2 linked regions of the Homo sapiens genome follow. The protein of the gene in region 1 purifies or fractionates together with the protein of each later gene. This does not show direct contact. Each region holds a gene or a part of one and is shown on either strand. Other genes may lie near its edges. The genes, in order: PIGG and ADGRG5.

Region 1 (3,809 bases):
CGGCACCAGGTCCCTGAGCGTGAACCCACACGCCTGCAAGCACACCCGACTGCTGCAGGCACCAAGTCCCTAAGCATGAACCCACACGCCTGCAGGCCCACCCCACTGCTGCCGGCACCAGGTCCCTGAGCGTGAACCCACACGCCTGCAGGCCCACCCCACTGCTGCAGGCACCAAGTCCCTAAGCATGAACCCACACGCCTGCAGGCCCACCCCACTGCTGCCGGCACCAGGTCCCTGAGCGTGAACCCACACGCCTGCAGGCCCACCCCACTGCTGCAGGCACCAAGTCCCTAAGCATGAACCCACACGCCTGCAGGCCCACCCCACTGCTGCCGGCACCAGGTGCTCTGCACTAAGTGCCAGTAGCCAGCAACACTAGGCGGCTCGCTCGTTTCACCTCCCTAATGACCCTATGAGGCAGGGATGAGCATCAGAACTGTTATCCAGAGGAGGCAACTGAGACACAGAGGGTGAGTCACGCACCTGGGCCACAGTGCCAGTGGGTAAAAGCTGCAAATGAAACTCAGGCAGTCTGGTTCCAGGGCTGGCATCCTTCATTGCTACACCTACCACCCTGGATGGGGGGACGCCTGTGTCCACACCCCACCGCCTATCAGAGAGTCACAAAGCTATGGGGGTGCACCTGTGCATGCATCGAAACAAATATCCATGGAGCGTGGACGACGTGCCAGGCACTGTGCCAGGCGCTGTGCCAGGGGAGACACAGCATGGCGAGCAAGCAGGTGCAATCCTTGCCTGCTGGGGCTTGGATCCAGTAGGGCTCACAGACACGCACGCACGCACACAAGCGTAATTACAAACTGTGACTGCATTACAGCTGTAATTACAAGTTTCCCAGGAAGGAAAAGTAGAGGGTATCAATGAGGGATTTTTGGTAATGGGGAGGAACTGATTTTGGATTGGGAGTGGGCGCTGGACCAGGAAGGTCTGATGTTTACGCTGAAATGTAAACGGTACCCAGGAATTCGCCAGGCAAAAAACTGCAGGAAGAGCATCAAGCTGATGGGAACAGCATGTGCAAAAGTCCAGAGGTGAGAAAAAGCCGGTCCCACTACACTGAGAGAGCCGGGTGGGCACAAAGCCTCCAACAGACTGGACGCCACCGAGGGACTGCACGGGCCTGGCTGTGGGTTCTAAAACGTATTTCAGTGTCAGAACACATACCCCATTTTGTTTTAGGAAAAAGGATCCCCGACGGTGTAGACAATGGGCCGCCAGGGGGGGTTCCAGACGCTGTGGCTGTGTTTTCAGTCAAGGGAGGCTCCTGCATTCCTTTAACAGGCTGGTTTCCTCTCATATCCACTGTGGTTCCCATCTTCCCCCAGCCACTACTTCTGGAACAGGCAAATAACCCTTCCATTGTTGTTTTGATTTTGTTGGTATCTTTTTTGTTTTGTTTTTTGAGATGGAGTCTCGCTCTGTCACCCAGGCTGGAGTGCAGTGTCGCCATCTCGGCTCACTGCAAGCTCCGCCTCCCGGGTTCACACCATTCTCCTGCCTCAGCCTCCCGAGTAGCTGGGCCTACAGGCGCCTGCCACCATGCCCAACTAATTTTTTGTATTTTTAGTAGAGATGGGGTTTCACTGTGTTAGCCAGGACGGTCTTGATCTCCTGACCTTGTGATCCCCCCGCCTCAGCCTCCCAAAGTGCTGGGATGACAGGCGTGAGCCACCACACCTGGCCAATTTTGTTGGTGTTTTTATCACTCTTAGCGTAGAAAAAAGGACACAGTAACAAAACAAGCAATATGCAAAAGCTACCAAACTCATACTATTTTTTAAAAAACGAAAAGCACAAGTCACTGTTGTCCCTGGTCTTGACTAAAATGGCTCCATGGCCAAAGTCCTCCACCTCACAGGGTGAGAGCTGGTGCTCGGTGGGGCCTCCAGACACTCATCACATCCGGTTCCCAAGCACTCCTTGGCTGGCCAGGTTTGTCTTCCACACGTGACTCTAGGAGGCCGGTTTACATCTCAGCGCAAGCTTGTGGACGTTCACTCTATTTGGTAGTAATAGTATCCCTCTACTTCAAGTAGGGAAATCTGCCAACACCACATTAACTGCTGCCCCCAAATAGGAGTCGACTTCCTCCGGGCTCTCAAAGGAGTCCCAGTATCAAACATGATTCTTGATGAACGCGGCTGCGTCAGAGTCGATTGTCTGAAGACATCCCAGGGAGACAAACGTTCCTCTCCTGGACCCTTCCTGTAGCTGTCTCCTGGCACCTCCCTTGGCCCCACACCTGCCTCAGGCAACTCCACCTCCTACTCCCATTAGAGTCGCAGTGTCTGCTGCCTAGGGCTCTCGCCTGCCTAGTACCAGCCAGGCCTTCCCCCACTCTCCATCTGACGAAGCCACTCATCACCCTCCATGGCCAGATCCAAAGCTCAGTTCTCAATTCCTGATTTTATTCAATACCAACCTTTGACGCAGCTGCCCACTCCATGCTTCCTGAAATTACTTCTTTACATGGCTTCCTGGACACCAACACCCCCACCCACAAGCACCTGCCTTGCAGAACTGTTCCTCCTAAGTCGTGCCCTCCTGAGGAAATTATTACTCTCTTTGCTTTCAGCTGAAAGCCCCGGAGTCGTACCTAACGCCTCTGGTCTGCTCGTACCCAATATCGCAGCACGTGAGCAAATCCTGTCTTCATGACCTTCAGAATCTTTCCAGAATGCAACCACTTCTTCACCACCCTTGCCTGGGCCCTGGCCACCCTCACCTCTCACAGAAGTACAGCCACTGCCTCCTGACTGGTCTCCTCCTACAGCACAAAGCAGAATCCTCCACGAGGGCGCCTGAGACAGCCTTCGAAAATGCAAGTGGGAGACTCTGGCTCTCACCAAACCCTGCAGCAGCTCCCCATTTAACTCAGAATACAAGTGAAAGCCCTTCCAGCGCCCAGTGGCCCTCACCCCTTAATGCCATCTCCTCTGCCCTGCCCTTGCCACTCTGGCCCCTGCTCTGACCATCCCCTGAATGTGCGCCCCATGGAGGACCCTGTCTGCTGCCCCCACAGCCTGTAATGTGCCCTCCCAGATGGCCAGCGGCCAGCCTGCCCCAGTGGCTCCCCCACCCGCTTCACTTCCCACCCCACGCCTGTTTATTCCTTCTTTTTTTTTTTTTTTTTTTTTTTTGAGGCAGAGTCTTGCTCTGTTGCCAGGCTGGAGTGCAGTAGCGCGATCTCAGTTCACTGCAACCTCCACCTCCAGGGTTCAAGCGATTCTCCTGCCTCAGCCTCCTGAGTAGCTGGGATTACAGGTGCCCGCCACCATGCCTGGCTAATTTTTGTATTTTTAGTAGAGACGGGGTTTCACTGTGTTAGTCAGGCTGGTCTTCAATTCCTGACTTCATGATCCGCCTGCCTTGGCCTCCCAAAGTGCTGGGATTACAGGCGTGAGCCACCGCACCCAGCCCTGTTTATTCTTTTCCTAAGGTACTCGTCACCATCGGCCATCGATCACTTCCTTTTCTCTCCTCCCTCTGGAAGGTTCCATGAGGGCAGAGCCTCGTACCTGCTCTGTCTCCAGTGCCTGTTAACAGCCTCTCATTCATAACAAGATCCTGGTAAATAGTTGTTGAATGAATAAATTTATGAAAGAACTTTAGATAACTGCATCTGAGGGTGCTGCCAATGGTGATAGTTCAAAGTTCTAAGAAAACAGAAACACAATCTGTATCATCAAAGAGTAGTGATGAAAAAATACTCCTGTGACAAACTGCATACCACAGAAACACATCGGAGAAACCCGAGCTCAGTGGAAACACACAGCTCTGACAGA
Region 2 (3,809 bases), on another chromosome or scaffold:
CCCTTGCACCAGCTTTTGCCTTGCTCCTCTGCCACAGACACAGGGCCCTCTGTAGCTCTGAGCCCCACTCAGGATGCATACATACCATGAGAACAGCAAAGTAGGTGAGGTGGTTGCAGCGGCAGAGCACCTGAGAGTGGGAGGGCTGCTCTGTACGACAGCCCTCAGGGCTCCAGCCCCCCCAGGGCTGTTTCCTGGCTCCCTCCTTCCAGAAGACACAGGTCAGGGTGTAGCCTTCCTGGGTGGAGATGCTGGGTCAGTCATAGGGTGCAGAGGAAAGGCTGCAGATCAGTGTCTGGGAGTCCTGGGGGCCAACGGTGACTCAACTGCACATTTGCCAACATTTTACCAGGCACTGGCTGGCCTTTGGCTTCAGACAGTCTCAGATTCCTGTCCCACCTCCACTGTGGGCTCTCAGAGTGACCCAGGCAAGACACCAAGTTGCTCTGAGCCTCAGTTTAGTCATCTACAGAATAGGATCATTCGTACCCATGTTACAACAATGGTGGAAAAACAAAGGGCAACACGGAATCTTGAGTGTCCAGCTCTGGCCTTTTATACAGTAGGCGCTCCATAACCAGCTGATCCCTTCCCTTCCTCCCCATGGGGAACAGCAATGTGCTCAGACCCACGCCTGGTTGGGGGAGACTCATCCACAGACAACCCTAATGCCAAGCCACGTGGGTGGAGAAGTGGAGGAAATGACACAGGTAGTCACGGAAGACCATGGAGGGTAGGCAGAGCTGACCCAAAGGGAGAAGGGGAGGTGGGGGCCCTGAACCCTTAGAGGACGTGTTGGATTTCAACACGAGTAGGGCAAGGGCATTCCAGGTGGAGGGAACCATAGTGGCAAAAGCCCAGAGCTGAAAGGAAAGGATGATGGTGAAATTTAGAGTGCAGGGCAGTCCTGGTGAAGCTGAAGGGAAGATGAAGCCAGAAAGCAGAGGCTCCGGGCTTTTCAGGAATGCCAGGAACCAGAAATGGAGGCACTGAGGCTTGTGAACCACCCCACTCTGCCCCCACCCCCAACAAGCAGCCCTGTCTCTGTTCCAGGATCAGCATCTGCACTTACCCTAGGAGCTCACTCCTTCACCCCAGTCCCTGGGCCGTGTGACCCAGGCCTGGCCAATCCACACATTCCATCCCCCTGGGCACAGTGACAGGTGCAGGGATGGACATGTGTGACCCAGCTGAACCTTTAAGATCCTGAGACCCTGATCTGCACTGGGGCAGGTTGTGGGTGGGGAGTCGGGGGAAGAGCCTGATGGGAAGAGGGAAAGGAAGTCTGGCTCTCCAGCATCCATCATGCCACAGAATGGACAGCCAAGACAGGAGACCATTGCTGAGACGGAGAGAGACTGAGCCACAAGGGCATCAGATCCATCCCTGGATCCAGCTATGTCTGAAGCTGGTGGATCACCTCTAGACATTTCATGGATGTGTGCCAATCAGTTCCCTCTGTGCTCAAGCTGGCTTGAAGTGGTCTTTTCTTACTTGCAACTGAAAGAATTCTGACAAATGCATGAGTAAAAACTTCTCTCTCTCTTATTTCTTGAGCAGGAATTTTCAAAGTGTGATGGATTTCCAAGATGGTTCCACAGGTTTGGGTCTAGTCAAACCAGTGTTCAACAGGAGAGTCACAGAGGGGCAGGGGTGCAGTGGAAACGGGGGCGCCCCCAGCAGTACCAGGCTTTGGTTGTGCCAGAAGCTGATGTTCACAGGATCCCTGAGGTTGTTCACGTGCCCATGACTCAGCTGGGCCCCCAGGACGTAGTTATTCAGCAGAGATGAGTTGTTTTCATCCTGGAAGGGCAGCAGGAGAAGGGCTGAGTGGAGGGGAAATGGGGAGGCCCTGGGTAAGGTCTGAGCTCCGCTTCCCTGGATGAGAACAAGCAGCAAGACTTTCACGTGTGCAGCGTGAAAGCTTTCTCAGCCTCCCAGCCTCCCAGCCTTCCCAGCCTCCCAGCCTTTGCATGTGCTGTTTCTGCCCTGTGGAAAGCTGTCCTCTCACCACCCCCTGCTCCACCTCCCATTCGTTTAATGCATTCCAGCCTCACGCCCTCCACCTCACCACTATCCTCACTCACTTTCAAAGCCAAGGTTGAAAGGCACCTTCCCCAGAAACTCCCCTGGACTGCCCACTGGGAAGAGCCCCAACCCCACCCTGACTCATCCATCACTCTGGATCTCTATGGCTATAATCAACCTTCTGCTGACATTAAATCTCTAAGATCAGGCCAGGCTCAGTGGCTCACGCCTATAATCCTAGCATTTTGGGAGGCCAAGGCAGGCGGATCACTTGAGGCCAGGAGTTCAAGATCAGCCTGGCCAACGTGGTTAAACCCGGTCTCTACTAAAAATACGAAAATTAGCTGGGCATGATGGCACACGCCTGTAATCCCAGGAGGCTGAGGCAGGGGAATTGCTTGAACCCAGGAGGCAGAGGTTGCAGTGAGCCGAGATCATGCCACTGCACTCCAGCCTGGGCAACAGAGCGAGACTCTGCCAAAAAAAAAAAAAAAAATCTGTAAGGTCTTAGTCTAGGCATCAAGACAGAGAGTTATCTGAGGGCAGGGAATAATAAGTGCCTTCTTGTCTGTCTCCCGCCTACCGACAGGCACATCGTAGGTTTCTTAGGTCTTATTTGCAGATTGTAATTATACCTTCCTACCATTCTGCTAAAGTTGGCAGGGAAACTGAGGCCCAGAGAGGGACAATTGCTGGCTTGGATTGCACAGATGGCTGGTTGGTCTCACTCAGTGCTGGTCACCCAGAGGCCAGGCAGTGACATGGGCACCTGCAGTGGATCCCAAGAAGGGGCCGGCACCCACCCTCCTTGGCCCGCCATCACACTGACCTTGAAAAAGTGGGTGTTGGAGAAGTAGATACAGATGAGCCGCAGCTCCCTGGGGCGGGTCTTGCAGGCGTCCCGGGTCAGCTCGGCGGGGAACTGCATGGCGTGCTGACCCCGGGCATGCTGACCTCCTGCCTGCAGAGGGTCGCAAACAGGCTGTTTGGCAACCAGGACCTGGAGACCTGACCCCAACACCTTCACTGCCTCCCACTCCCCGTGAAACCTTCCTTGGGGTTTCCACCCACAGAACCTTCTCCCCCCAGGCTGCATCTCCTCCCAAACTTCCCAAGATCCCAGGCCTTCCCTCCATGCTGTTCCTGAGTTTTGGATGTTTACCTGACCCACTGAACCCCTGAAGATGGAGCTACCTCAGCACCCAGCCCCAGCACCAGCCCCAGCCCCTGCCAGGGATCCAGCTGATCACCCCAGGGTCCTAAAAGGAGCCAGGGTTTCTGGCCTCTCCCACAGCGCCTCCCGCAGCGGGCAGCCTCCAGCCAAAGCAGGAAGAAGATTCTGCCCTGCAGGGGCAATAAAGCACCTCCCTTTCCACAGTTCACACAGCGAGTATGAGCCCCATTTTACAGAGGAGGCAACTCACTGCCAGTTAGGGCAGAGCCTGGACTGTGGGGTGTGGGGAGGAAGACAGTGGAGCCTAAAGAAAGTCCAGACCTTAAATGCCTGGAGGACTTCTAGGGCGGGGCAGCTGGCCACACCCCCCAACCCGCAGCCTCTGACCTGGGGCACCCGCTTCAGAGTGGCACTGGTCAGCGAGAGGCCAGAGAAGTCACAGCTCAGCTTGAAGGCCAGAGACTGGATGGTGGGTGTCTGCAAGGTCAGGTTGTAGCCTGGGAAGCTGGTGTTCAGTAGCATCTGCTCCAGCTGGTGGAGTTGACTGCAGCCCAGAGAGATGGCCAGGGAGGCCAGAGCCCGGAGTGGGGTAAGGGTGAGAGGGGGC

The links.
Region 2: the proteins of PIGG (region 1) and ADGRG5 purify together in Homo sapiens (co-immunoprecipitation; one large-scale study listed by IntAct). This does not show direct contact.

Annotation. Positions count from the first base shown.
Region 1 is NC_000004.12:516,210-520,018, reverse strand, and holds part of PIGG (GPI ethanolamine phosphate transferase 2, catalytic subunit), read right to left. Parts: intron 3,681-3,809; exon of another isoform or gene 3,583-3,680; coding exon of another isoform or gene 3,543-3,582; intron 1-3,542.
Region 2 is NC_000016.10:57,563,028-57,566,836, reverse strand, and holds part of ADGRG5 (adhesion G-protein coupled receptor G5 isoform 1 precursor), read right to left. Parts: intron 3,747-3,809; coding exon 3,590-3,746; intron 2,990-3,589; coding exon 2,858-2,989; intron 1,804-2,857; coding exon 1,687-1,803; intron 1,549-1,686; exon of another isoform or gene 239-1,548; coding exon 86-238; exon of another isoform or gene 1-85. UniProt on the Homo sapiens protein: Orphan adhesion G-protein coupled receptor (aGPCR). Ligand binding causes a conformation change that triggers signaling via guanine nucleotide-binding proteins (G proteins) and modulates the activity of downstream effectors, such as adenylate cyclase.